Linked DNA regions of Homo sapiens. The protein of the gene in region 2 purifies or fractionates together with the protein of the main gene of each other region. This does not show direct contact. Each region holds a gene or a part of one and is shown on either strand. Other genes may lie near its edges. The genes, in order: CPT1A, CLN3, SLC25A10 and IMMT.

Region 1 (7,526 bases), on a different chromosome or scaffold from region 2:
ATTGGCAGGCCAGAATTCTGTTGCTGGTGGAAGCCTGAACTTGAATTCCGGAAGAATTGGTGCTTTAAGAATTAAAATGGCTGTTCGAGATTGTTTGTTTAAAGTGTGTTGGAGAGAATCTCTCGAGAATCTCTCCAACACACTTTAAAGAGGCCTCACTTGTCTTCTGCCAGTCTTGAGCTTTTCTTGTGAAGACTTTTGTTTTGTTTTGTTTTTACAAATAAGCGATATAAGCATACGATGCAAAGTTAAAGAGGCACAGATGGGCCCGGCCCCGTGGCTCACGCCTGTAATCTCAATGCTTTGGGAGGCCAAGGTGGGAGGATTGCTTTGAGGCCAGGAATTCGAGACCAACCTGGGCAACAGAGCCAGACCCCTGTCTCTACAAACAATTAGTAGGGCCTGGTGGAGTGCATCTGTGGTCCCAGCTACTCAGGAGGCTGAGGTGGGAGGATGGCTTCAGCCCAGGAGGTGGAGACTGCAGTGAGCTATGATTGCACCACTGCGCTCCAGCCTCGGTGACAGCCAGACCCTGTCTCTGTTTTTTTTTTTTTTTTTTTAAAAAGGTGCAGATACAGAGTAGAGTCCTTCTCACTTGGTTCCCCTCTCCAGATGCCACCACTATTACCAGTTTCTTTGACGACATGTACAGGATATGTTTTTTAAACAAATTGATTGCTTAACACAAGTAAGGACTTTTTTCTGCTTGCTAGCTTCAAATATTTGTTACCTTGTGTAAATTTCAACTTTTACCCCATCCAAATGTCAGGTGAAGGTTGGATCTCCAGCAGGCCCTGGGCTGAGGCCAGCTACCCTATTTGGGTATCTTGACGGCCTCAGAAGTGTCTGCCTTTGCCTTTTTTTTGGTGAGGATTGTTCTTCGGTCCAGGAACGTCTTTGGAAGTTAACAGTGAAAGAAATCATGCTGCTGAGTGAGGCGTGCCCTCTCCAGGGTGTGCAGGAGGGTCACCGTCACCTTGGAGGGTTGGGCAGTAGGGTGGGTACCGCTCTGCTTCCTGAGGGATATAGGTTAGGCATTGGACACCAAGTCCTTTATGTTAAGAAAGGAAGGCTTCATACTCCTGATGCGGGTGGTTTGTGGTACCCAGCCCAGGAGCCGGAGAGCCAGCCTGCATTCTTCCTGTTCCCTAAGCCCCCACATGCAGCCGGGGCTAAGTGCTGCTACTTCTTCCTAACTCACCCTTACATTCACCTTCCTCATTATTTCAGTGGCCCAGAGCAGACATTCAGATATGTGTTGAAGGAATGACAGAACATTTGAGACATCCTTTCTTTTTTTTTCTTTAGTGACAAGGTCTTGCTCTGTTGTCCAGGCTGGAGTGCCGTGGCGCAATCATAGTGCACTCTTGGCCTCAAGCGATCCTCCCACCTCAGCCTCCCAAAGCACTGGGATTACAGGCATAAGCCCCCTCGCCCTGCCCGAAGCACCCTTTTTCCACTCTGGATTGCCATAACCGCCTGACGAGGGGCACTGTTATTCCTGTTTGTGTTATGGGAAGTTCCTGTGAGGGAGGCAGGGAGCAGAGGAGCATTTGGGTCCCCCCTCAATGCACCTTCCTTCATGCTGCTACTGTGGCTGAGGACATCTGGACCCGAGACCACGTCCCTATTCTCTCCCCACAGCAAGCTGCTAGCTCTCTGCAGTGATGTCTGCTTCGCCCACCAGCCCTGGCTCACTCAGGGGGTCCTGTGGTCATCAGGTCACATTGAGTCACCACAGACAGCTTTCCTAACGCTGTGTTCTGATGCCCTGGAGAAACTGTCAGCTAAGCGCAGTGGCTCACGCCTGTAATCCCAGCACTTCTGGAGGCCACGATGGGCGGAACATGAGGTCAGGAGATCGAGACCAGCCTGGCCAACACAGTGAAACCTCGTCTTTACTAAAATACAAAAAGGTAGCTGGGCATGGTGATGCACGCCTGTAATCCCAGCTACTCGGGAGGCTGAGGCAGGGGAATCGCTTGAACCCAGGAGTTGGAGGTTGCAGTGAGCTGAGATCACACCACTGCACTCCAGCCTGGTTGACAGAGCAAGACTCCGTCTCAAAAAAGAAAAGAAAAGAGAAGAGAAGAGACAAAACTGTCATATGCTATCACTGAAATTTGACTTTTTATAAAATGATTCTTCATTTATAAAAGCATTTATCCCTGATTTGCCAACTGTCATCTCCTCTGGTGCCCTGAAAAAGATTTAATACATGGAGGTTTGCTTTCCTTTTTCTTTATTTCCTTCATTCCTTCCTTCCTTCCTTCCTTCCTTCCCTTTCTTTTCTTGGAGATTTTGTTTCATTTTTCTTTCTTTCTCTCTTTTCTTTTCTTATTTTCTTTTCTTTTCTTTCTTTTGAGGAAATCTCACTCTGTTGCCCAGGCTGGAGTGTAGCGGTATGATCTCGGCTCACTGCAGCCTCTGCCTTCTGGGTTCAAGTGATTCTCCTGCCTCAGCCTCCCAAGCAGCTGGGACTACAGGGGCATGCCACCATGCCTGCCTAATTTTTGTATTTTTAGTAGAGATGAGTTTCACCATGTTGGCCAGGCTGGTCTTGAATTCCTGACCTCAGGTGATCTGCCTGACTCACCCTCCCAAAGTGCGGGGATTACAGGCATGAGCCACTGCGCCAGGAGTTTTTTTTTCCGAGGCAGGATCTTGCCTTGGTGCCCAAGCTGGAGTGCAGTGCCGTGGTGCCATCATAGCTCAACGTAATCTCCCATTTGGGCTCAAGGGATCCTCCTTCTTCAGCCTCTTACATAGCTAGGACCACAGGCATATGCCACCACACCTAGCTAATTTTTTATATTTTTTTGTAGAGACAGGCCTCACTATGTTGCCCAGGCTGGTCTTGAACTCCTGGCCTTAAGTGACCCTTTCACCTTGGCCTTGCAAAGCGTTGGGATTCCAGGCATGAGCCACCACGCCGGGCTTCCTGGTTTCTTTATACTTCTTCAAATACACACAGTGGCTCAATGTGATGTCCAGTACAGTTTGCACAAAATACAACCACAGATTGCTAAAAGGTATACATCGAAGTCAGAAGGTATCAAATGCTGGCATTGAGATTTGGCATGGGGTGGGGGTGCAACAGGTAGGAAGAGAAATCCACATTCCTAGAGGGTTTGCATTGGCACCACAGGGCTACAGTTGGAAAGGGACAAAGAACGTGTTCCTGCAGTAAAGACCTAACAGGTGTCAGAGCTGGCTGCCACGTCCTCCTGCAGTTTGCCGGAGGAGGTAAGGGCATCCTGCATACTTTATGTGAGGCAAATACTTGCTCAAGGTCACAGGTCTGAGTAATTGGTAGAGCTGGGATTTGAACCCAGATCTGTGTGTTTTCTTTCCCTTTCCCAGGCTGCTTCCCAGACCACTGGGCAGCCAGAGGGCCTGGGTTTTGGAGGCCCCCACTCCCTACCCCATGCAGACTGGGTGTGGCACTGAATCCGCCTCTAGGGTTTCTGGGTTTCCATTTCCTCATCTGTAAGGTGGTGGGTCTGAACCTGTCATTCCATGTCACACGAGTTTTGTGAGGATCCAATCAGAGGTCAGATGTGAAGAGAGTTTTGAGTGTGTAAAGTAAATACAGGCTCTAGCAAACAATGTCCTGGCTGCAGGCGGCATTTAGGGACACCAATGTATTTTGCAGTCCCCACATTAGAAGTTCAGTTCAAGTTCAGTTTGAATTAGAAGTTCAAGTTGTTATATTCTGTGCAAAGGTGAAGAATATGCATGGGAGATACAGGGGACACCGCTCCTGTTGTCTTAGGGACATTTGTGGGAACAATATACTGGTACGAAGAGGAGGTTTAGGATGTCCTTTGGGCAGGTGCAGGTCTCCTCCTTGCAGTCTGAGCTCCTGCCCGAGTGCCGATGCTGGCTAGAGGCAGGGCAGGCACAGTGGGAAAGAAGTAGCAGCTGTTAAACTTCTGGTGGGCTTCTGAATAGCTAGGTCAGATAACTGGGTCTGTCAATACGTTGGCTATCTTCTTTATAAAATTGTGAATCTTTGTGGCTTTTCCAAATTTTTTTTCTAAGATCATATTTGTCTGTATTTATCTAACCATTACTTATTGACGTGGTGCACTATAAGGTCTAAATTTGAATTGGCTTAATTTTTTTTTTTTTGAGATGGAGTCTCGCCCTATCGCCCGGGCTGGAGTGCAGTGGCGCAATCATGGCTCACTGCAACCTCCGCCTCCCCAGTTCAAGCAATTCTCCTGCCTCAGCCTCCCGAGTAGCTGAGATTACAGGCATGCACCACCATGCCCAGGTAGTTTTTGTTTGTTAGTAGAGACAGGGTTTCATCATGTTGGCCAGGCTGGTCTCAAACTCCTGACCTCAAGTGATCCACCCAGAATTGGCTTAATTTTTACAGTACTTGGTAAGACAGGGTCTCGCTCTGTCATCCAGGCTAGAGTGCAGTGGCGTGATCATAGCTCACTATAACCTCAAACTCCTGGGCTCGAGTGATACTCGCAAGTAGCTGGGACCACAGGCATGCACTACCCACACCTTGGCTAATTTTTGTATTTTTTGTAGAGATGGGGTCTTGCTACATTGCCCAGATTGGTCTCAAATACCTGGGCTCAAGCGAACTTCCTGCCTTCGCCTGCCAAAGTATTGGGATTACAGGCATGAGCCACCATACCCAGTCCAGAATTCCTTTTATTTTATTATTTTTATTTTTTGAGACGAAGTCTCCCTCTGTCACCCAGGCTGGGGTGCAGTGGCATGATCTCGGCTCACTGCAACCTCTGCCTCCCGGGTTCAAGCGATTCTCCTGCCTCAGCCTCCCGAATAGCTGGATTACAAGTGCCCACCACCACACCTGGCTAATTTTTGTATTTTTACTAGAGATGAGGTTTTGCCACGTTGGCCAGGCTGGTCTTGAACTCCTGACCTCAGGTGATCCACACGCCTCAGCCTCCCAAAGTGCTGGGATTATAGGCATGAGCCACCGTGCCCAGCCCAGAATTCCTTTTATAACCTGACGACCCATTATATTGACCCCATAAATGTGAATAGTCCATTATGATAAACTTCAGTACAGGAAATCCACTGTGTGGCCAATTTAAATAATGTGAATATTGAATGATCAGTCATGAATTCAAGACGCAACCTTTCATAATGAAAGCTCCAGGCTGGGTGTAGTGGAGCACACCTGTAGTCCCAGCTTAGGCTGAGGCAAGATGATCTCTTGAGCCAGGAGTTCAAGGTCACGCTCGGCAACAGAACAAGACCCTGTCTTATAAAAAAAAAATAATAATGAAAATCCTTCACCTTTCTTGTACATGAAACCCTCCGAAAAACATAAGGTGAGTCTTACATTCTCACTTCTAAGGTGCTTCCATCAGGTTTGGGAAACAATTTCTTTTTTTTTTTCTTTTTTGAGATGGAGTTTCGCTCTTGTTGCCCAGGCTGGAGTGCGGTGGTGGGACCTTGGCTCACTGCAACCTCCACCAACCAGGTTCAAGCAATTCTCCTGCTACAGGTGCCCACCACCACACCCAGCTAATGTTTTGTATTTTTAGTAGAGATGGGGTTTCACCATGTTGGCCAGGCTGGTTTTGAACTCCTGGCCTCAGGTGATCCGCCCACCTTGGCCTCCCAAAGTGCTGGGATTACAGGCGTGAGCCAACACGCCCAGCCAAGTTTGGGAAACAACTTCTGTTTGTGTGTATACACATTTACTGGAAAAGTACAAGGGCACCATTACAGATGTGCATATCTGCAATTGAATAACGATGTGGCTCATACAGTGCAGAGAGCGCACACCCACACTTGCCTGGAGAAGAGGAGCTGCTGCTTTTCTTCCTTCCCATTATTGCTAATTTTTGCCTGCATCTCAGTTCAGAAGAGCCATGAACTTTACTGCACATGTGTGCTAGTTCTAGGGAACCCCCTGGGCTGCTGCTGTCCTTCCAGAGCCTTCCTGGTACTTCCCTTGAAGTTCTTTGGGCAGCAGTGAGGAGGCCAGGCCAGATTTTTGCCACCTTGGACATCATGCATGTTGTGAAGGTGGTTTCCCCGAGCTGGAGCCAGTCCCGGAGGCTGGCACTAGCTTTCTAGCGAAGCAGAATCTTCCCAGGCATTGGTCACCCGGGCATCCAAGAATGTGTTGTAGATGATGAGATAACTGCCCTGCCCTTCGCCAGAGACACTGCTTCTGACCCTGCCTACAGCGCCTTCTCCAGTTTTTCCAGGGATGAGGCCCATGTCATCCAGCCTCACACTTTCTCTGTTCCTAGAGGCCCTGCCTGGTATTCCTGCTGAGCTAAGCTGTCGCTTCCCATGGGTAACATTTTCTCAGAGGATTTCCAACATAGTTGTTTACCGCTGGAGGAGATGGGCAGCTGTTAGCTAGGTTTGAATAGAAAGCAGAGCCTGCTCCTGTGTGCATGGGCACTGTGCAATGCTAGTGGGAAGACTGCAGCATGTGAATAATTTTACAGTTGGCACTGATGGTGTTTATACTTACTGGAGTTTTATTGCTGGCTGCAATCTCATCATTTTGGTTACAACAGTGACCTAATTTTATATCTGTGTTGTAACTTTAGGAATCCTAAGTAGAACTTTTTGTGTAGTACCTACCACTTTACTTTGGGAGTTAAGAGTATAAGTTTTGGAGTTGGACCTGGGTTTTTGTTTGTTTGTTTGTTTGTTTGTTTGTTTTTGAGACAGAGTCTCGCTCTGTCACCCAGGCTGGAGTGCAGTGGTGCAATCTTGGCTCACTGCAACCTCCACCTGCCAGGTTCAAGAAATTCTCCTGTCTCAGTTTCCCTAGTATCTGGGACTACGGGTGCATGCCACCAAGCCCAGCTAATTTTTTGTATTTTTAGTAGAGACAGGGTTTCACCATATTGGTCAGGCTGGTCTCGAACTCTTGAGCTCAGGTGATCTGTCCGCCTTGGCCTGCCAAAGTGCTGGGATTAGAGGCGTGAGCCACCGCACCTGGCCTGGGCCTGGGTTTGATTTCCAGCCCTGCTATTTGCTGGCTGTGACACTGGGCAAGTTTCTTGACATCTAAGCCCTGGTTTTCTCATTAGTACATGGAGATAGCCCTAGTACCCATTTCCTAGGGTGCTAGTGGGAATTAAATGATCTAATGCTAGTCAAATACATCAATATAAAAATATATATGGGTCACATTGTCTAGCATATGCCAAAGGGTTTGGTAAAAAGAATGTTCTGGGTCGGGCACAGTGGCTCATGCCTGTAATCCCAGCACTTTAGGAGGCCAAGGCAGACGGATCGCTTGGGGTCAGGAGTTCGAGACCAGCCTGGTCAACATGGTAAAAACCCATCTCTACTAAAAATACAAAATTAGCCAGGCGTGGTGGTGCGTGCCTGTAATTCCAGCTCCTGGGAAGGCTGAGGCAGGAGAATCACTTGAACCCAGGAGGCAGAGGTTGCTGTGAGCCGAGATCATGTCATTGCACTCCAGCCTGGGTGATGGAGCAAAACTTCGTCTCAAAAAAAAAAAAAAGGAATGTGCTGTAACTTCATTATTAAAAGCA
Region 2 (7,009 bases):
CTAAAAATACAAAAACTACCTGGGTGTGGTGGCACACACCTGTAGTCTGAGCTATTCAGGAGGCTGAGGCAGGAGAATTGCTTGAAGCCAGGAGGTGGAAGTTGCAATGAGCCAAGATCACACCACTGCACTCTAGCTTGGGCAACAGAGTGAGACACCATCTCAAAAAAAAGAAAGCTCTTGAATGTGTTATCTAAACAAAGTCCATTTACAGGGCCATCTGTGGCCTGTGGTCTAGTAGTGTGAGACTCATATGGAAACCCCCTCTTCATTGTGCATGCAGAGACGCTGAGGTCCTGAGAAGTCAGTCACTGCTGACCCAAAGCCATCCTTCAAGTGAAGGCAGAGCTGGGACGGGAGCCAGGCTCTGTGTGTCTATCCCTCTGCCTCCAGGGTGAAAGACATGCTTTTCTCCCATTAGGTGGACCCAGGCCCAACGCCGATCCCCCACAACAGCTCATCACGATTTGACTGCAACTCTGTCTCTACGGCTGTGCGTACTCATCTCACCTGGTCCTTGCCTGACCCAGGGCCCCTGGGTCTATAGACCCCACTCCCAGCCCTTCACTACCCAGCTGGGACTGTCATGATTAAAACAGTTGAGACCTGGGCTGGGCGCACTGGCTCACACTTGTAATCCCAGCACTTTGGGAGACCAAGGTGGGAGGATCACTTGAGCCTAGGAGTTTGAGACCAGCCTGGGCAGTATAGTGAGACCCCCATCTTAAAGAAAAAAATTAAAAAATATATATATATAAAATAATTGAGACCTTAATATAATTTCTGAGGCTGAGGCGGATGGATCACTTGAGACCAGGAGTTCAAGACCAGCCTGGCCAACATGGTGAAACCCCATCTGTACTAAAAATACAAAAATTAGCCAGGCATGGTGGTGCACGCCTGTAATCCCAGCTACTCAGGAGGCTGAGGCAGGAGAATCACTTGAACCCAGGAGGTGGAGGTTGTAGTGAGCCAAGATCGAGCCACTACACTCCAGCCTGGGTGGCAGAATGAGACTCACTCTCAAAATATATATATATATAGTTTCTGAGTCCTTTCTGTCTGCACCATATATTAGCTCATTTAAGCCACACAGCAGTCCTGTGAGCTAGGTGCTATGATATTCCCATTTTCCAGATGAGGAAACTGAAGCTCAGAGAGTATAAACTCTTGACACACAACTAAGGAGTGGGAGAGCTGAGACTTGAACCCAGGCGTGCCTGACTCCAGAGCCTGTGTTTGTAGCAGGCCTGTTTGGCCAGCTCCTGCCTCTCCTTGGCCACGTGGTTGGGAGGGTTGTCCCCTGGAAGCTCTGCGGTCTCACTCTATTCTCCTGTCCCAGGCTGTGCTCCTGGCGGACATCCTCCCCACACTCGTCATCAAATTGTTGGCTCCTCTTGGCCTTCACCTGCTGCCCTACAGGTCTGGGTGAGGGTAGTGGGAGGCAGGGTGGGCAGGAGCTGAGAAAGGGGAGGCTGGGATGGCTGAGATGCTGAGAGTAGAGACCGACCTTCCCCCTCCCTTCCCTTCTCACCCCCTCAGCCCCCGGGTTCTCGTCAGTGGGATTTGTGCTGCTGGAAGCTTCGTCCTGGTTGCCTTTTCTCATTCTGTGGGGACCAGCCTGTGTGGTGAGTGTGTGGTTCTGTGTCAGATGGGGAGCCCCGAGGAACCACATCAGAGCATTTGTGGGAAGAGTCTCCCCAGCCTCCCAGAGGAAAGGGATTCATTCTGTCACCCTTAGAAGCCTGCTAGGGCTATCAGCAGTAGGCGATGGGAGACTGGGACAATTTGGAGGGGTAGGCAGTGGAGGAGATGGGAGAAAATGGATGAATTAGATGGAGATTGAGGTGAACAAAGTCAAGACTCTGTGATGGACCAGGCACAGTGACTCATGCCTATAATCCCAGCACTTTGGAAAGCCAAGGCAGGCAGATCACCTGAGGTCAGGAGTTCGAAACCAGCCTGGCCAACATGGAGAAACCCCGTCTCTACCAAAAATACAAAAATTAGCTGGGTGTGGTGGCAGGAGCCTGTAATCCCAGCTACTCGGGAGGCTGAGGCAGGAGAATCTCTTGAACCTGGGAGGCAGAGGTTGCAGTGAGCCGAGATCACGCCACTGTACTCCAGCCTGGGTGACAGGGCGAGACTCCGTCTCCAAAAAGAAAAGAAAAGAAAAAGACTGATGAAGGGGCAGAGACATCAAGGGTGCATGTCTGCCCCTGGTCTGATAACTGGGTGGATGGAGGTGCCACTCTCCATGAAGGGACACGCAGGGGAGTGGGGCTCTGCTTCAGACCTGGAACCTGGCCTATGCATGGGATCTATTGGAGCCTCTATGAGCTGATACTGAGGAGGCCATGGCCAGACACATTAGAGGCCTGGGCAGTGTGGCAAGGTGTGGTGTGACCATCCCAGTGCTTGTCCTCCCCCCAGGTGTGGTCTTCGCTAGCATCTCATCAGGCCTTGGGGAGGTCACCTTCCTCTCCCTCACTGCCTTCTACCCCAGGTAAGCAGGTGGAGCAGGGAGTGTGGGGAGAGGCTGTCCCATGGTCAGCCTAGGTCCTCCTGAATGTTCCTGTGTTCTCCTTCCCAGGGCCGTGATCTCCTGGTGGTCCTCAGGGACTGGGGGAGCTGGGCTGCTGGGGGCCCTGTCCTACCTGGGCCTCACCCAGGCCGGCCTCTCCCCTCAGCAGACCCTGCTGTCCATGCTGGGTATCCCTGCCCTGCTGCTGGCCAGGTGAGCTGCCCTGAGCCGGGAGGGAGAGGGGTCCAAGGAGAGAAAACTTGGCCATGGCTGGGTGTGGTGGCTCACGCCTGTAATCCCAGCACTTTGGGAGGCCAAGGAGGGCAGATCGCCTAAGGTCAGGAAACCAGCCTGGCCAACATGGTGAAACCCCGTCTCTACTAAAAATACAACAATTAGCCAGGTGTGGTGGCGGGTGCCTGTAGTCCCAACTACTCAGGAGGCTAAGGCAGGAGAATCGCTTGAACCCCGGAGGCAGTGGTGGCAGTGAGCCGAGATCGTGCCATTGCACTCCAGCCCGGGCGACAGAGTTAGACTCTGTCTCAGGAAGAAAAAAAAAAAAAGAAAGAAAAGAAAACTTGATTATGATTGCAATCTTCAAGTCCCTACCTTGCTGTGAAGGGAGGCGGAATCTGGACTCTGATAGCCCCAGGTGTGAGTCCTGGAGCTGCCACTTTTTAGCTTTGTAGCGTTGAACAAGTTACTCCACCTCTCTGAACCCTCAGTTTCCCCATATCTCAAATGGCAGTTGTTCTTGCTTTCCTTGGAGGTGATGAGGGTAATGCATTCAGCACAGTGTGGTTCCCAAGGTGATTAGAAGTAGGATGAGGGTGGACTTTATTTGATTAGTTCCTTTTTTTTTTTTTTTTTTTTTTAATCAGTGTTGACCAGGTTGGCCTCGAATGTGTAGCCTTGCCTGCCTGAGTGCCAGGGCAACAGGCCTGAACCATGGCGACTCCCTTTTTTTTTTTTTTTTTTTTTTTTTTTTGAGACGGAGTCTCATGGTGTCACTCAGGCTGGAGTGCAGTGACTGGTGTGATCTCAGCTCACTGCAGCCTCGGCCTCCCGGGCTCTAGTGATTCTCCTGCCTCAGCCTCCCGAGTAGCTGGGACTACAGGCCCATGCCACCATGCCTGGCTAATTTTTTATATTTTTAGTAGAGACGGGGTTTCACTGTATTGGCCAGGCTGGTCTCAAACTCCTGACCTCAAGTGATCCACCTGCCTTGGCCTCCCATAATGCTAGGAATACAGGCGTGAGCCACCGCGCCCGGCCTGATTAGTTCTGTGTATTTTCATGCATATTACAAAACACTTTGGCCGGGCATGGTGGCTCACATCTGTAATCCCAGCACTTTGGGAGGCCGAGGCGGGCGCACCACGAGGTCAGGAGTTTGAGACCAGCCTGGCCAATATGGTGAAACCCCGTCTCTACTAAAAATACAAAAATTAGCCAGGCTTGGTGGCGCTTGCCTGTAGTCCCAGCTACTTGGGAGGCTGAGGAGAAGAATCGCTTGAACCCAGGAGGCAGAGGTTGCAGTGAGCCGTGATTGTGCCACTGCACTCCAGGCTGGGCAACAGAGCGAGACTCCGTCTAAAAAAAAAAAAAACACACACTTTGAACTAGCCAGACACACCTGGCCCTTCACAAGATTAGTGCTTAGGACAAGTCTAAGTAGAAAAAGTGAGTCCATTTAAAGAAAAATATTAAGTAAAAATATATATATACAGGAGGAATATGGATATGGCAAATAACATGAAGCCAGAACCTAAGTGACTAAAATCGAGGAAGTTCTGGCCTAGCACAGAGTGAACGTATAATTAATGGGAGCTAGAGCGACCATTAGAATAATAATGGCCAGAAAACAGAACTGACTCGCTAGGTATGAGCCAGCAGTCCGAACAAGGGCCTGCTGAGCACAGTGGCTCACAGCTGTAATCCCAGTGCTTTAGGAGGCTGAGGCTGGAGGACCACTAGAGGCTAGAAATTTGAGACCAGCCTGGGCAACATAGCGAGACTCCATTTATACAAAAAATGGAAAATATGAGGCGGGCTTGGTGGCACGTGCCTGTAGTCCCCGCTACTTGGGAGGCTGAGGCGGGAGGATTGCTTGAGCCTGGGAGGTCGCGGCTGCAGTGAGCTATGATTGCACCACTGCATTCCAGCCTGGATGCTGGAGAAAGACCCTGTCTCTGAAAAAAATCAAAACAAAATGAAGGCCCATGAATAGGAATAAGGAGATAAATTCAGGTCCAAAGAAAGAAGCCTTTGTCCACAATTGGAGCTCTCCCGCACAGCGTAGGAGCCTTAGAGGCAGTGAGCTACCCATCTTTGAAAGTGTTCAAAGGTAGAGGTGTTCCCTGGGAAAAGTGGCCTAGATGGTCCCTGGGGACCTTCCCAGCCAGTAGGGTTTTCTGACCCTGCCTTCATCCTACTCCTAGCTATTTCTTGTTGCTCACATCTCCTGAGGCCCAGGACCCTGGAGGGGAAGAAGAAGCAGAGAGCGCAGCCCGGCAGCCCCTCATAAGAACCGAGGCCCCGGAGTCGAAGCCAGGTAGGAGACACAGACCCTCAGAGAGGTCACTTTCTTTCTCTCTGGGTTTGGCCTTTTCCTCTCTGCAATAGGCAAAGTTAAGAGGGGAAAGAGAGTGAGTGTACTGGTTATGGGAAAAGCCTTTGTCTATTTGAGAAATACTTGTTGAGGACGAGCACAGTGGCTCACGCCTGTAATATCCCAGCACTTTGGGAGGCTGAGGCAGGAGGACCACTTGAGCTCAGAAGTCTGAGTCCAGCCTGGGCAACAGAGCAAGACCTTGTCGCAAAAAAAAAAAAAAAAAAAAAAAAAAGAAAAGAAAGGAAGGAAGGGAGGGAGAGAAGAAGGGATATTAATTGAGTACTTACCATGTGCCAGGCATTCCAATCACAAGTGCTGAGGCCCTGCGGTGGGGATAAGCTGGGATGTTCTAGAACCAGAGAATGGCCAGTGAGACTGGGCAGGGTGGGCCAATGGCCATCTGTGGAGCTGTACAAGAGACATTGGCCGGGCGTGGTGGTTCATACCTGTAATCCCAGCACTTTGGGAGGCTGAGGCAGATGGATCATTTGAGATCAAGAGTTTGAGACCAGTCTGGCCAACATGGTAAAACCCCGTCTCTACTAAAAATAAAAAAATTAGCCAGGTGTGGTGGTGCATGCCTGTAGTCCCAGCTACTTGGGAAGCTGAGGCACGAGAATCACTTGAACCCAGGAGGCAGAGGCTGCAGTGAGCTGAGATTGCACCACTGCACTGCAGCCTGGGCAACTGAGTGAGACTCTGTCTCAAAAAATAAAAAAAATTAAAAATCAAAGAGACGTGAAGAGGTCTCACCTGGTTAGCTTTTATTTTCATCATGATAAAGTATGTATATTACTTGAAGTTTACCATTTTATTATTTTTTATCTTACTTTATTTTTTTGAGGTGGAGTTTCGCTCTTGTTGCCCAGGCTGGAGTGCAATGGCGCAATCTCAGCTCACTACAACCTCTGCCTCCTGGGTTCAAGTGATTCTCCTGCCTCAGCCACCCGAGTAGCTGGGACTACAGACACCTGCCACCACACATGGCTAATTTTTGTATTTTTAGTAGAGATGGGGTTTCTCCATGTTGGCCAGGGTGGTCTTGAACTCCTGACCTCAGGTGATCCGCCCACCTCAGTCTCCCAAGGTGCTGGGATTACAAGCATGAGCCACTGCGCCCAGCCATTTTAACCATTTTTAAGTGTCCAATCCAGTGGCATGGAAGTGAGTTCCCACTGTTGCGTGGTCTGGTTAATTCTGTCATACCGGTGCCTCTTTGCCGAGTCTTCAGTGTGAAAACTTCATCTGCCCTTCTCTCTCTGTTCCCCTGCAGGCTCCAGCTCCAGCCTCTCCCTTCGGGAAAGGTGGACAGTGTTCAAGGTTCGGATGATGGCTGGGGTATGTCCCTGTGGGGCTTGCTCACCTCCAGGCCCCCCGCTTATATCTTCTGCCTTTTCCAGGGTCTGCTGTGGTACATTGTTCCCTTGGTCGTAGTTTACTTTGCCGAGTATTTCATTAACCAGGGACTTGTAAGTGAGGGGTGCTAGGAGGGGTGTGGAGGTGGCGATTGGGGCTGGGACCCACACAGCCCCGTCCATCTCCCCTGTCTGGTATTTGTTGCAGTTTGAACTCCTCTTTTTCTGGAACACTTCCCTGAGTCACGCTCAGCAATACCGCTGGTAAGAGGAGCGAGGGCAGTGGGCTGGGAGGGCGCCGTGGTGATGCAGCTGCCCTGCCCAGTAGGCACCGGGGGGAGCGGGATGGTCCCTGGAGGAGCCTCCTCTCCTCCCCCCAACCCTAACCTCAGGTACCAGATGCTGTACCAGGCTGGCGTCTTTGCCTCCCGCTCTTCTCTCCGCTGCTGTCGCATCCGTTTCACCTGGGCCCTGGCCCTGCTGCAGGTACCAAACCCCTGCCCCTCACTTCACTCC
Region 3 (6,755 bases), on a different chromosome or scaffold from region 2:
AGCGCCTCGCTGTGCAGACAGGTGCGTGGTGTGTGCCAGCCTTGGGCTCCCAGACTGGGGCTGAGTCCTGCAGTGGCATCCAAGCTACTTCCGTCCCCTTTTCAAGACTTTGTGCAAGGAAGGACCCACCAGGCCGAGAGCTGGTGACCCCAGGGTGCGCCTCCCATGGGCACCCACCCAGTTTGCAGGGCTGGGCCTGAGACCGCCACTTACTGGTGGGGAAGCTGAGGCCCAGGGAGTGAGAAAGCAGGGTGCAGCTCTAGATTTGTGAACTGGCTCAGCCGCATGCTGGCACAGTGGCCTTGGGAAGGCCCCTCAGGGTCCCTGTGGCCCCTCGGGCTGAGGGGGATCCCTGGCTGGGCCGGGTGGCGAGGCTGAGGGGTGTGGGGCGTGCCCGTCCCTCCAAGCCAGGCCCTTCTCCCCCAGATGACCTACTCCCTGACTCGGTTCGCCATCTACGAGACTGTGCGGGACCGTGTGGCCAAGGGCAGCCAGGGGCCTCTCCCCTTCCACGAGAAGGTGTTGCTGGGCTCCGTCAGCGGTGAGCTGCCGGGCGGGAGGGGGAGGGGCGCGGGGTGGTCAGGTCGGCCGAGGACGCCGTGTGTCAGCACGGCTCATCTCTGGGGTTTGTGTCACCGCAGGTTTAGCTGGAGGCTTCGTGGGGACGCCCGCAGACTTGGTCAACGTCAGGTTGGTGTTCCCCCACCCCACCTGCAAGGCCAGGGGCTTTCTTGTCCCCAGACATGCCAGGGCCTGCCAGGGCTGCTTGCAGGGTGGGGTCAGCCTGGAATAAGCCACTGAGACCCTGGTGTCCTGGGCATAGGAGGGTGGGTGTCCCTGAGCCCCGGCGTGCCCTGTCCTGTGGGCCCCGCTGACCAGCGTGAGCTCCCCTGTGCTGCCAGGGCTGCCCATGCCCCTCGGCCCGCCCGCCCCTCCCGCCACCTGCTTCTGTTTCAGGATGCAGAACGACGTGAAGCTGCCCCAGGGTCAGCGGCGCAAGTGAGTCATGGGCGGCCTTCTCGGGGTGGTTGAGGTGCAGGAGGCTCGGGCGGGAGCGGACCCCTGGCTGCTCTGCCGTGACCCAGCTGAGGCTCCAGCAGGCCGAGGTGCCTGCACGGTCCATGGAGGGTCCTGACGGCTGTTCTGGACTCGGGGGTGTCACTCTGCGCCCCCAGGACCTTTGGGTTCTTCCTGTGGGGAGAGCCTTGTTGGATTGGGGGCTGGGCCTGTTTGCACCCCAGGGTGGTGAGTGCGGAGGCGAACGCCCCAGGCATGGAGAGAGCGCATGCAACAGAAACGCCCGAAGGAGGCGCTGCCTCCCTGCCCAGCTCAGGGCAGCTGTGCCCTCCTGCCACGGCCTGGGGTCTTTCCAGGGCCCGGGGTCCGCTCCAACTGCAGTGTGAGCCACTTCCCCCGCCCCTTCCAAGGACCCCTGGGGAGTTCTGGCTTCTAGCTGTGCACACAGACTGTGTTCCCCCAGGACCCCGGGGGCTGGCGGGCAGGAGGCCTGCATGCTAGGAGCGGTGCCCAGCCAGGGACTCTGTTGGAAACGATGGAACCTCCTCCCTGAGGGCCGGGCGGGGCGGGCGAGGTGGCTGTGGGACGTCAGGACCAGCTTCATGTTCCCAGGGAGAGATCTTCAGGCCCATGAGGCCTCTGCTTCCTCGAGAACCCCCGGCCTGCCTCGGGGCCTGGGAGGACCCTCTGTGGGAGCCGGTGGTCAGGGGGAGTCTCATGTGGTCATTCTGTGTCCCCGGCAGCTACGCCCATGCGCTGGATGGCCTGTACCGCGTAGCTCGTGAAGGTGAGGGGCAGGTGCTGTGCACAGGCAGGGTTCTGGGGGGCAGGCAGGGTGGGCAGCGCTGTAGAAGACTGGGCGCTGAGGGATTTGGGCCAGGTGCCTGGCCTCACCCCTTGCCTCACCCCTTGCCTCACCCCTTCCTTGTGCAGAGGGTCTCAGGAGACTGTTCTCGGGTGCAACCATGGCATCCAGCCGAGGGGCCTTAGTCACTGTGGGCCAGGTAGGCCTCCTGCGTGGGGTGGGTGTGGGCAGTGCCTGTGACCACTGACCTCCATCTTCAGAGGGGCCATAGAACAAGGCACTGGGCGCCAAAACCCTCCTGGGGAGCCACCAGCTGTGACCTTGTGGGGCAGGGTGGGGGGCACGGGTGGGTCAGGGCTGCAGCCTGTGAAGGACCTCGGGCAGGTGCCTCCCCTGTCTGGGCCTCACGGACGGACAGACGGAGCAGGTGCTTGGCCATTGCCAGGTGGTGTCGCCTGGGGCCCTGTGTGCTTTCCCCAAGCTGGGGTCCCCCCTACAGCCCTGACCGCCCTTGTGCCCCTGCAGCTGTCCTGCTACGACCAGGCCAAGCAGCTGGTCCTTAGCACCGGGTACCTCTCTGACAACATCTTCACTCACTTTGTCGCCAGCTTTATTGCAGTAAGTGGCCGGCATGGCTAGGGTGGGCGTCCCTGGGCCGGCCTTGGGCGCTGAGGGCACCCAGGATGGGGCGAGGGCTGGGGGAGGCGGGGGCCTTGGGCATCTGGCAGTGCCCCCTGGGGCTCATAAGTGGGGTGCCAGGGCTTTGGGAGCTCATGGGTCAGCCTGGTGCCCCCGCCAGCATGTTCCTGGCCCGCCCTAGGAGTCAGGTGGAGGTTCTGGCACGTGGGTGGGATTCGGCGATGGTGCCTGGCGTACCTGACAGGCCGCTGGTGACGAGCCCCCTCCTCAGGGTGGATGTGCCACGTTCCTGTGCCAGCCCCTGGATGTGCTGAAGACTCGCCTGATGAACTCCAAGGGGGAGTATCAGGTGAGTGGGGCCCTGCCTGTGCAGTTGGGCTGCACAGCCCAGCGAGTCCCCTCACCTCTCCGGGGGGTGGACACTCGCACTGGGGACCCGGGGAAGGGTGTCCCTCCCTTCTAGTTGCCTGTCTCTGCACAGCACTTGCCTTGGGAGAGGGTTGTGCCTTTGAATGCCTTTGCCTTGTTTTTGTTTTTAGAGAAGACTTCTTGGCCCGGCGCAGTGGCTCATGCCTGTAACCCCAGCACTTTGGGAGCCTGAGGCAGGCAGACTGCTTGAGTCTAGGAGTTCAAGACCAGCCTGGGCAACATACTGAAACCCTGTCTCTACCAAAATTACAAAAATTAGGGGCCAGGTGCGGTGGCTCATGCCTATCATCCCAGCACTTTGGGAGGTCGAGGCAAGCAGATCACCTGAGGTCAGGAGTTCAAGACCAGCCTGGCCAACATGGTGAAACCCCCTCTCTACTAAAAATACAAAAAATTGGCTGGGTGTGGTGGCGTGCGCCTGTAATCCCAGCTACTCGGGAGGCTGAGGCAGGAGAATCGCTTGAACCTGGGAGGCGGAGGTTGCAGTGAGCCGAGATCACACCATTGCACCCCAGCCTGGGCCACAAGAGTGAAACTGTCTCAAAAAAACAAAACAAAACAAAATTGGTCAGGCTTGGTGGTGCATGCCTGTAGTTCCAGCTACACAGGAGGCTGAGGTGGGATAATCCCTTGAGCCCAGGATGTCCAGGCCACAGTGAGCCGAGATTGCACCACTGCATTCCAGCCTGGGTGACAGAGTGAGACTGTCTTAAAACATTTCTTTTCGGCCAGGCACGGTGGCTCACGCCTGTAATCCCAACACTTTGGGAGGCCAAGGCGGGCAGATCACAAGTCAGGAGTTGGAGACCAGCCTGACCAACATGGTGAAACCCCGTCTCTACTAAAAATGCAAAAAAATTAGCTGGGCCTGGTGGCGCACGCCTGTAATCCCAGCTACTCAGGAGGCTGAGGCAGGAGAATTGCTTGAATTCAGGAGGCGGAGGTTGCAGTGAGCCGAGATTGCACCACTGCACTCCAGCCTGGATGACAGAGCGAGACTCTGTCTTAAAAAAACAAAAAACAAAAAAAAACACATTTCTTTTCTTTCTTTTTTTTTTCCCCTCATTGCAACCTCCACCTCCTGGGATCAAGCGATTCTCCTGCCTCAGCCTCCCAAGTAGCTGGGATTACAGGCGCCCGCCACCATGCCCGGCTAATTTTTCATATTTTTAGTAGAGACAGGGTTTCACCATGTCGGCCAGGCTGGTCTTGAACTCCTGACCTCAGGTGATCCGCTTGCCTCGGCCTCCCAAAGTGCTGGGATTACAGGCACGTGCCACCACTCCTGGCTAATTTTTGTATTTTTAGTAGAGACAAGGTTTCGCCATGTTCGCCAGGCTGGTCTTGAACTCCTGGCCTGAAGTGATCTGCCGCCTCAGCCTCCCAAAGTGCTGGGATTACAGGTGTGAGTCACTGTGCCCGGCCAAAAACATTTCTTTCACAGATTAACAGAGGTGGTGCCGTTCATGGCAGTCTGTGCCTCATAGGTGCTCTGGGTCTCCTGTCTTGGGCCCCCGCCAACTCCATGGGGCTTCCACGTTTGCAGAGCCCATAGCTCTGTCCCTTTTCTTCTCCCTGACGCTGCCGTGCTGCATCCCTGATTCTCATGGTTCTGTTCACAGCCCCCTCTGCCCACTGGACCCCGGGCTGCACCCTCGGGCCCTGGTTGTACCGCATGAGCAGGCAGGGTGGCCGTTGACCTGGCTGGTGCCTGCAGACCTGTGGTCACCTGTTACCAGCCAGCAGCCGCCGCTCACACCCACACCCACACCCACACCCCACATTGAGAATGCCCAGGCCACCGTGCCTGGCTGGTGCCTGGGAGGGGATTTTCGTTGCCTTTTGGGTGAGAAGCAGCCTTTTTGATTGTTTCACTGCGTTTTCTGCAGGGCGTTTTCCACTGCGCCGTGGAGACAGCGAAGCTCGGGCCTCTGGCCTTTTACAAGGTGCAGTGGTGGCGGCAGTGGCGGCTTGGGCAATGGGGAGCGGGCCCCTTCGGGCTCTGTGTCTCTCATTTTCCCTGTCTCCCTCCAGGGCCTCGTCCCAGCTGGCATCCGCCTCATCCCCCACACCGTGCTCACTTTTGTGTTTCTGGAACAGCTACGCAAAAACTTTGGCATCAAAGTGCCATCCTGACCAGCCGTGGGAATGGCTGGGCTGCCAGGCCAGACACGCTAGGTTCTTCCAAAGAGTCCCAAGCCCAGCACCTGCTCCTGGGGCCACGACCTCCCTGGCCGTGGCCACCCGTCCTCCGCAGCAGGCCCCTGCTGTCCCCCCACCTGCTGGCTGAGCTCCTCCTGGCCTCGTCCCCTCTCAGCTGTAGCTGCACCACCCCCGCTCTGGCTACCAGGCTCTCCCGGCTGGGCACTGCGTGGCCTTGCCCCTCTCCCGCTGGCAGCTCCTCAGGGGAACAGGGGCTACCAGAGGCTGATTTCTCCCCTCTCCTGGGCCAGGGGAGGGGTATTATCCCTGCCTCCTGCCCCCGATGCCCAAAGCAGCATCTTCCAGCACTTTCCATCGAGGACTTGGGTGGCAGAGTGTGGGTGCAGCCTGGCTGTTGCTCACCCAAGTGCTAGCTCTGCACTTCGTGTCTGCTGAGAGCAACCAGACCTTCCATGTCCTCGGGCAGCTGCAACTCCCCGCGAGACCCCGCAGCTGGGTGGGATGAACAAGCAACGCAGACCACAAGCGAGTGCCTGGGAGGGAGTGGCCCAGGGTGGTTCTGGAGCCATTGTGGGTGAGGGTCGAGGGCCACCGAGGTCCCGCGCACCGCTGCCTGCCCTGCAGTGGCTTTAACAGTTAGTTTTGCCAAAGCCTCTCCACTCACCAGCAGGCGGTCTCTGTCTTCAGGGATTGTGCCTGCGTCCCTCGGGCACCTGGGCCCCCCCGCTTGGCTCCCTGGGGGAATGGCCCAGGCGGGCCGCGGTTCCTCCTTAGGGCCTTCTCCCCGACAAGGAGTCCGACGGGGCGGATGCTGCATCCTCTGCCTCCCTGGTCGCTGGGCTTCACCCCACCTGGGAAGGGCAGTGTGCTCTGTGGGGGCTGCAATCAATAAATGCCGGGAGCTGCCACATCTGTTCCTGCCTGCGCTGCCTGCCCGCTGGCTGCCTTGCTGTCCAGACCAGCAGGACCCCCTGCACCCCCTAAGGAGGACCGGGCCAAGGCCTTTTGGGGAGGAGCCAGGGTCCTCGCTGTGCATTTGGATGAAGGAATTGGGGAAGTAGGAGGAACCAAAACCGGTGTGGGGGGAAGGGAACAAGACGGTGAGGCTGGGGTTGAGGGTCTCAGACACAGGATCTGGCTCTGTCATTCAGACTGGAGTGCAGTGGCACGATCTTGGCTTACTAACCTGGGCCTCCTGGGCTCAAACCAGTCTTCTACCTCAGCCTTCCAAGTAGCTGGTGCTATGGGCGTGCACCATCATACCTGGCTAATTTTTGTATGTTTTTGTAGAGTTGGGGTCTCACAATGTTACCCAGGCTGGTCCCAAACTTCTGAGCTCAGGGGATCTGCCCATTTTGGCCTCCCAAAGATGCCCTTTTTTTTTTTTTTAAGACAGGGTCTTACTGTGTCACTCAGGCTGGAGTGCAGTGGCGCAAACAGCCTGTAGTCCCAGCTACTTGGAAGGCTGCGGTGGGATCCTTTAAGCCTGCAAGTTCGAGGCTGCAGGGAGCTATGATCGCACCACTGCACTCCAGCCTGGGTGACAGAGCGAGACCCCATTTCAAAAAAAGAATGTAATGGTGGGCCGGGTGTGATCTCTCATACTTGTAATCCCAGCACTGTGGGAGGCTGAGGCAAGATCTCTTGAGCCCAGGAATTCGAGACTAGCCTGGACGATATGGTGAGATCTCCATCTGTACAG
Region 4 (7,526 bases), on a different chromosome or scaffold from region 2:
TCTTCTACCACTCTTCAAAGCAATTAAAAAATATTCTTTGTTTAGTTGCTTTCTTTTGTCTGTCTTCATCATTAACAGGCTTTTTCCTTTGTTACTCTTTTTCCATGTGTAAATGTCCCCTTCTTGTGTGTTAATATTATTATTATAAGCCTTGCCTGGAATAATGATGGTTAAAATGCAGGTGGATGCAGACAAGACTTCTTTCTTTTGTTCGTTCCCAACCATTGTCCATTTTGTGTGAGTTTATGTATGCAGTGGACAGTGCCCCTGTTTGTGTGTTATTCAAACATGTGGCAGTACAAATATTTGTGTCTCTAAGGAGTCAGATGTGAAGTGGGTGGTGATGGTGGTAGTAAATTTCTGTGTGTTTCTCTGTTAACCCAGGAAAGTATAAATACCATGAGTAACATATATTTATAGCACCTACAGAAGCGGCTCAAATTATTTCTGCAGCAGGTGATACCCTGTCGGTCCCAGCCCCTGCAGTTCAGCCTGAGGAATCTTTAAAAACTGATCACCCTGAAATTGGTGAAGGAAAACCCACACCTGCACTTTCAGGTAATTTAATTATTTCTATTTGTTCTTTTATACATGATACACTCATCAGAACTATTTAATGCCTAGGCAACACGTAGACACTAAGTATACATTTACACTAGGTTTAGGTCTTCAGAGTTTCTTAGGAAATTTTTAAAATTTAAATGTCCGAATGTATCTTTTTAAACAAGAAGATTAAAGCCTGATTCCTATTTCTTCATTTTGGAATCATTAAGAGTAATGATATGGTTTTAGAATTCTTAACACAAAAATGCCCTGCATTGATATAACTGGCCAGTACAAACGATGCTTTTTTTATATCCCTGTTAGCTATTAAAATTCTATGCTGAAATTTGATTTCCTCTTATTTACTTTTGCTGCAAGAAGAAGCATCCTCATCTTCTATAAGGGAGCGACCACCTGAAGAAGTTGCAGCTCGCCTTGCACAACAGGAAAAACAAGAACAAGTTAAAATTGAGTGTATGTAAACCAGACAGCTTCTTAAGGATTTTGGGTCATCTCCCAGTTGCTCTCTTCTTAAACTATCAGCACAAGTTTGTCATCTATCACCTAGTTGTGGTTTCTTTTGTTGCTGCGGTTGTTTTTTAGTGGCATTGCTTTATTCATCACCTTCATTTCATCTAAACTTCTTTTACCTAAGTGACAAAGGCTATTCTTAGTGTATAGTTGGTGAAAACTCCAAATAATACTAAAGATTATGTTAGCGCTAAAGATTCTTTATACTCTGGGAAACAGAAATTGATTATTTATGTTTTAGCAGCTTGCCTAAAAGTCCTTTATTTATTTTTTTGAGATAGGCTCTTTTCTGTCACCCAGACTGGAGTGCGGTGGCACTGTCATGGCTCACTGCAGCCTCAACCTCCCAGGCCAAAGCCATCCTCCCACCTCAGCCTCCTCTGTAGCTGGGACTACAGGCGTGTACCACCATACCCAGCTAATTTTTTAAAAATTTTTTATAGACACAGGCATCTCACTATGTTGCCTAGACTGGTCTCGTACTCCTGGGCTCAAGTGATCCTCCCACCTTGAACTCCCAAAGTGCTGGGATTACAGGCCTGAGCCCTTGTACCCAGCCCTAAGAGTCTTTTATTAATAATTGTTAATTTATACTTGTAAATAATTGTTTATTAATAATTGTAAATTTATTTGTTGGAGTCAGAATGGCTTACACTGCCTTATCATCTAGCCTCTGGACTCTCTAGTAGTGCTTTTATCTGACACTGGTGGGGCATGGAATGTTCTACACATCGCTGGTTTCCAGCTAACAAGCATATTCCTTTTTAAGTTTCAGTTTTATGGTTTTTTTGTTTGTTTGTTTTTAAGAGATGGGCTCTTACTGTGTTGGTCAGGGTAGTGTTGGACTCTTGGCCTCAAGAAATCCTCCCACCTTGGCCTCCCAAAGTGCTGGGATTACAGGCATGAGCTACCACACCTGGCCAAGTTTTTTTTATCATTATTATTATTTTTGCTGTCCTCGGTAGGTCAGGATTCTTAAATTTTTTGATGGTTTAAAAAAGATAATAGATATTTATCAATTTATTTTTCTGTCTTAAAGCACATGTAACATAATTTTTTGTACTGTGCTATAATATGTTGATGTCTCTGGAGGTCGTGGGATGTAGCTTTTTGCTGGACAGAGAGTTCAGTACTCATGGCAGCTGTTTATAGTTTTTTGATCTCCTTGTCATTTGTTTTGCTCCTGTTTCCCTTGTAATGTGCTGGTTCTGCCCTACCCTGAGGAACCAAGTTTCTTAGAATAGCATAGGTGTCATTCTGTGCCTATGGCATTAGTTTTCCTACTTGGATTTGGATTTTCGTTTTTGATTTTTTGTATTCTTCTGATTGTGTTACAAATATTTGTGAATATTTAATAAATGACTTCTAACTAAGTGAAATATTTCATTTTTCCTACTTCTTTTTTCTTTTAGTCCTGTTTTTTCTTCACTTTTCACTTTTCTCTCTTTATCACTTGGGCACCTTGAAATTAAGTTATAAACGTAAGATGGAGATGTCTGCTGTTCCAGCTGTTCTTTTCCTTGCCTGGTTCCTCTCATCTTTCATTTTGGGCAAAGTGAAAATTTTCAGAATTTTATCTGTCACCTCTTAATTCCCCCTCAAACTTGACTTTAAAAATATACACATATGCATTTGCATGTGAAATATTTATCAAGGATCAAAGGACAGTGACTAAACCTCTGAAGAGGGCTGGAAGCAGCAGGTGCCTCCCAGCAGCCCACTTTCTGTGGCCTCCATAAAGTGGTTCACAACTGCCTGTACTTGATGTCCACTGTTCACTCACGCATGTCATGGGATCCAAATACCACGGTTTCTCTCCCTTGCCCCTTTCTCTTGTTGTATCCCCTGCTCTCATTTCACTTCTATCACTTCTGTCAATTTCTTTTTATTTTCTCCTTATTAGTTTTCCTCTTATCTTTCTTGCAGAGGTACCATTTGTAGTTCCTCAGATTCCATTTGTTCATTGCTAGTTTATGCTTCTTTTCCTCAAAATCATCTTTTTTTCTCGCTTGTCAAATACATTTTTTATTTTTTGTCATGTGATATCATTTATTTAATTAATTTGTTTTGAGACAGAGTCTCACTCTGTCACCTAGGCTGGAGTGCAGTGGTGCAATATCGGCTCACTACAACCTCCAACTCCCAGGTTCAAGCGATTTTCCTGCCTCAGCCTCCTGAGTAGCTGGGACTATAGGCACCCACCACCATGTCTGGATAATTTTTGTATTTTTAGTAGAGACGGGGTTTCACAATGTTGGCCAGCCTGGTCTCGAACTCCTGACCTCAGGTGATACACCTGCCTCGGCCTCCCAAAGTGCTGGGATTACAGGCGTGAGCCACTGCGCCGGCCCATTTATTATTAAATTAGTATTCTTACTAGCCGCCTTTCTTCAAATGACCATTTATTTTTGCATTTTAGTAAATTATCTAAAATTGTCATTTGCTTTACTTTTTGGTATTCCCGAAACAGCATATAGAAATGTGATCTTAATAGATGGAAGCCTCTTGAACATTGGTGTCTGCTATTTCTTGAGTCCTTTTATGGAAGAACACTGTCCATTTCAAGTTGCCTTTGGGTTTTGTTTTGTATTTTTTGACCTGTTTTCTTATTTGTCTTTTTCTTTCTCTTGTCTGTTTTCTTGTATCTTGTCAACATAAGTGTTTTGCTATGAGTATTCCTTCTTGCCAAGGGGATGAAATGGGCACCTCTTTTTCCCTGTTACGATTGTTGTTTAAAATGAAGAAAGCTGATGGATTTGTTGAGTTTATAGCCACAATATGTAAAAGGGGCTATAGTGTCCTAAACCTTGTTTCTCCCATTTGAAATACATTACCCTTCTTTAAATAATTTTGAAAAAAAAAAACACTTTTTATTTTGAAAAAGTTTAGATATACAGAAAAGAAAAAGTAGGCTGGGCACGGTGGCTCACGCCTGTAATCCCAGCACTTTGAGAGGCTGAGGTGGATGGATCACGAGGTCAGGAGATCGAGACCATCCTGGCTAACACGGTGAAACCCTGTCTGCTAAAAATACAAAATATTAGCTGAGCGTGGTGGCAGGCACCTGTAGTCCCAGCTACTCAGGAGGCTGAGGCAGGAGAATCGCCTGAACCCAGGAGGCGGAGGTTGCAGTGAACTGAGACGGTGCCACTGCACTCTAGCCTGGGCGATAGAGTGGGACTCCGTCTCCAAAAAAAAAAAAAAAAACAAAAAACAAAAAACCGGGCACGGTGGCTCACGCCTGTAATCCCAGCACTTTGGGAGTCCAGGGTGGGCGGATCATGGGGTCAGTAGATGGAGACTATCCTGGCTAACATGGTGAAACCCCGTCTCTACTAAGAAATACAAAAAAATTAGCTGGGCGTGGTGGTATGCACCTGTAGTCCCAGCTACTCGGGAGGCTGAGGTAGGAGAATGGCGTGAACCCGGGAGGCGGAGCTTGCAGTGAGCCGAGATCGCGCCACTGCACTCCAGCCTGGGCGACAGAGCGAGACTCTGTCTCAAAAAAAAAAAAAAAAAGAAGTGTAATAAAGCTTCATAGATTTATCATCCAGACTAAATTATCAGTATTTTACCATGTTTTCTTTTTTTTTTTTGAGAGAGTCTCGCTCTGTCGCCCAGGCTAGAGTGCAGTGGCATGATCTCGGCTCACTGCAAGCTCCACCTCCCAGGTTCAAGCGATTCTCCTGCCTCAGCCTCCCAGGTAGCTGGAACTACAGGCACCCGCCACCATGCCTGGCTAATTTTTGTATTTTTAGTAGAGACGGGGTTTCACCACATTGGTCAGGTTGGTCTCAAACTCCTGACCTTGTGATACGCCCGCCTCGGCCTCCCAAAGTGCTGGGATTACAGGCATGAGCCACTGCGCCCGGCCTTTACCATACTTTTAAGTGAAACTTTGATTCCCTAAATTTGAGTCTCATGTATTTTGTTCCTTTTTAAATTTTTTGGGAAATGCAATGGAAGACTAGATAGGAGAACAGCAAAAGTTTAAAGTCATTTATGGGGGTAGGATTTGTTTTTTAACTGTTCTTTTTTTTTTTTAAGCTCTAGCCAAGAGCTTAGAAGATGCTCTGAGGCAAACTGCAAGTGTCACTCTGCAGGCTATTGCAGCTCAGAATGCTGCGGTCCAGGCTGTCAATGCACACTCCAACATATTGAAAGCCGCCATGGACAATTCTGAGGTGAGCCCAATGAATGATTAGAAGTGTTCTGGCTGTCATGACTTGGAGGACAAAAAGAAAAATCGAGGGTGGAGAGAAGTGTAATATTTAACAGACTGCTTTCTTCCGTATGATATCGGCTTTCTCTCACTAGGGGAAGATAGTCTGGAATAATTAATCTTTTTTTGTTATTGTTTTGAGACGGAGTCTTGCTCTGTCGCCCGGGCTGGAGTCCAGTGGTGCGATCTCGGCTCATTGCAACCTCCACCTCCCAGGTTCAAGCGATTCTCCTGCCTCAGCCTCCCGAGTAGCTGGGATTACAGGCTCCCGCCACCATACCCGGCTAATTTTTGTACTTTTAGTAGAGACAGGGTTTGCCATTTTGGCCAGGCTGGACTGGAACTCTTGACCTCAAGTGATTTGCCTGCCTCGGCCTCCCAAAATGTTGGGATTACAGGCGTGAGCCACTGTGCTTGGCCTTAGAGTAATTATGTTTAAAAAACAAACTGAAAAAAGCCTTTAAGTTTTTTAGAATGAATTTTATACATTGTGCTTTACTATATCTTACAACACCGATGCAGCGCAAGAATTAGTTCAGATTTGCTTTCATATTTTAATAGCACTTAAATATTTTTGTTGTTTGCTTTAAAATTGCTATTTCCATAGGTAAACTTTTTAAGATACTTCTCAAACTTCACATGCAGTTTTAAGAAATAATACAGAGAGCTCTCATGTTCCCTGAAACACCTGCTATTTTAAATGTTTATGATTATTTATGCGAAACACTTCAAAGAATGAAGTAATAACATTGATTTTTCAAAATTTAATACTGGGACTTAATACATTATTTTATAATTACATTAAGTTATTCAGTATGTATAAATGTATCTCTATTCCAAGTCATTTAAGGAGTAAATTAAAGTAAAATGCATAAATTATTAATCTTAAGGATCAGGATCATACATGGTCAGTAAAGTTACTTTGCCATCATAATTGTAGTTTTAAAAAAAATTTTACACACACTTTACATTGTTTCAGTCGTATGTACTTATATTACAAAAGAGTTTAATTAGACCTCTGATGTTAGTAGCAAGAAACTACAACCTTTGAAATTTTAAGGAAAATTCCATTTTATTCAAAGTCCAAGAAAAATACTTAAATATCAGAGTTCAGTCAGCAAAGTGGAAACCACCCAGGAAATTTAATTTGCTGGTTACCGATATGGGAAGGCTAGAAGTTGCGTGATGTAAGGGTGTTGGGTTCAAACCCAAGTAGACCAGTATCCCTCAGAAGGACACGGATTGGAAGCTTTAAATGCCATGTTACTACTTGGGTATAAGGGTACACAAGGTGGTATTTCATCTTCCTAACGCACATAATGTGTAGCACATGGTGATTAGACAGTGTAAAATCTATTGCAGTCAAGATTTTACAATCTAATGGTAGCAGTTAACAGATGAGAGTATTAGCTAATGTACAAAATAATTGGAAAAATGTATGAACACATTTTGGAATGTTAAGAATGAATTCCAGCTTTTGTTTTTTCTAGTACAAGAAGCTACAGGTGCACATGTAATTTCTAATATATACTGAATAACTTTCACAAAGCAGTGTTTGTGAAGAGTTGGATTTGGTAATACTAGGATTTAGTTTGGTTGTAGGGGAATCTGTGTCTGTTACAGGGTAGGTTTTCCTTGGACTTCTGTAAGCAGGAGTACCTTCAACAAGGGTGATAAATTTTGGCCCCCAGATATGTCATTGACATTTACATGCTTTGTAATTCTATTTGGGTCAGTTCATGTGGCCCAACTCAGCATCCATTCCTTTTTTTTTTTTTTTGAGACAGAGTCTTGCTCTGTCACCAGGCTGTAGTGCAGTGGCGTGATCTCTGCTCACTGCAACCTCTGCCTCCCAGGTTCAAGCAATTCTCCTGCCTTAGCCTCTCAAGTAGCTGAAATTACAGGTGCCCACCACCACACCTGGCTAATTTTTGTATTTTTCGTACAGAGAGGGTTTCACTATGTTGGCCAGGCTGGTCTCGAACTCATGACCTCAAGTGATCTACCTGCCTCCACCTCCCAAAAGTGCTGGGATTATAGGCGTAAGCCACCATGCCTGGCCCCAAATCAGTATACATTCTTGATGTATTTTATTTTCAAGATGACTAAAGCGGTCCAGGCGTGGTGGCTCATACCTGTAATCCCAGCACTGTGGGAGGCTGAGGCTGGTGGATCATTTGAGGTCAGGAGTTCGAGACCAGCCTGACCAACATGGAGAAACCCCGTTTCT

The links.
Region 1: the proteins of CLN3 (region 2) and CPT1A purify together in Homo sapiens (affinity purification with mass spectrometry, with the first as the bait; 2 studies listed by BioGRID). This does not show direct contact.
Region 3: the proteins of CLN3 (region 2) and SLC25A10 purify together in Homo sapiens (affinity purification with mass spectrometry; 2 studies listed by BioGRID and IntAct, with this or other methods). This does not show direct contact.
Region 4: the proteins of CLN3 (region 2) and IMMT purify together in Homo sapiens (affinity purification with mass spectrometry; 2 studies listed by BioGRID and IntAct, with this or other methods). This does not show direct contact.

What each region holds. Positions count from the first base shown.
Region 1 is NC_000011.10:68,831,607-68,839,132, reverse strand, and holds part of CPT1A (carnitine O-palmitoyltransferase 1, liver isoform), read left to right. Parts: intron 1-7,526. UniProt on the Homo sapiens protein: Catalyzes the transfer of the acyl group of long-chain fatty acid-CoA conjugates onto carnitine, an essential step for the mitochondrial uptake of long-chain fatty acids and their subsequent beta-oxidation in the mitochondrion.
Region 2 is NC_000016.10:28,482,075-28,489,083, reverse strand, and holds part of CLN3 (battenin), read left to right. Parts: intron 1-421; coding exon 422-493; intron 494-1,342; coding exon 1,343-1,422; intron 1,423-1,542; coding exon 1,543-1,628; intron 1,629-2,433; coding exon 2,434-2,506; intron 2,507-2,593; coding exon 2,594-2,737; intron 2,738-4,965; coding exon 4,966-5,078; intron 5,079-6,411; coding exon 6,412-6,458; intron 6,459-6,538; coding exon 6,539-6,607; intron 6,608-6,701; coding exon 6,702-6,757; intron 6,758-6,885; coding exon 6,886-6,979; intron 6,980-7,009.
Region 3 is NC_000017.11:81,715,052-81,721,806, forward strand, and holds the end of SLC25A10 (mitochondrial dicarboxylate carrier), read left to right. Parts: coding exon 1-21; intron 22-426; coding exon 427-541; intron 542-641; coding exon 642-690; intron 691-957; coding exon 958-999; intron 1,000-1,760; coding exon 1,761-1,804; intron 1,805-1,950; coding exon 1,951-2,021; intron 2,022-2,347; coding exon 2,348-2,440; intron 2,441-2,705; coding exon of another isoform or gene 2,706-2,732; coding exon 2,733-2,810; intron 2,811-3,000; coding exon of another isoform or gene 3,001-3,117; exon of another isoform or gene 3,118-3,293; intron 3,294-4,779; coding exon 4,780-4,836; intron 4,837-4,924; coding exon 4,925-5,026; coding exon of another isoform or gene 5,027-5,466; 3' UTR 5,467-5,961; downstream 5,962-6,755. UniProt on the Homo sapiens protein: Catalyzes the electroneutral exchange or flux of physiologically important metabolites such as dicarboxylates (malonate, malate, succinate), inorganic sulfur-containing anions, and phosphate, across mitochondrial inner membrane.
Region 4 is NC_000002.12:86,164,240-86,171,765, reverse strand, and holds part of IMMT (MICOS complex subunit MIC60), read left to right. Parts: intron 1-384; exon of another isoform or gene 385-420; coding exon 421-558; intron 559-921; coding exon 922-1,017; coding exon of another isoform or gene 1,018-1,025; exon of another isoform or gene 1,026-2,453; intron 2,454-5,121; coding exon 5,122-5,258; intron 5,259-7,526. UniProt on the Homo sapiens protein: Component of the MICOS complex, a large protein complex of the mitochondrial inner membrane that plays crucial roles in the maintenance of crista junctions, inner membrane architecture, and formation of contact sites to the outer membrane.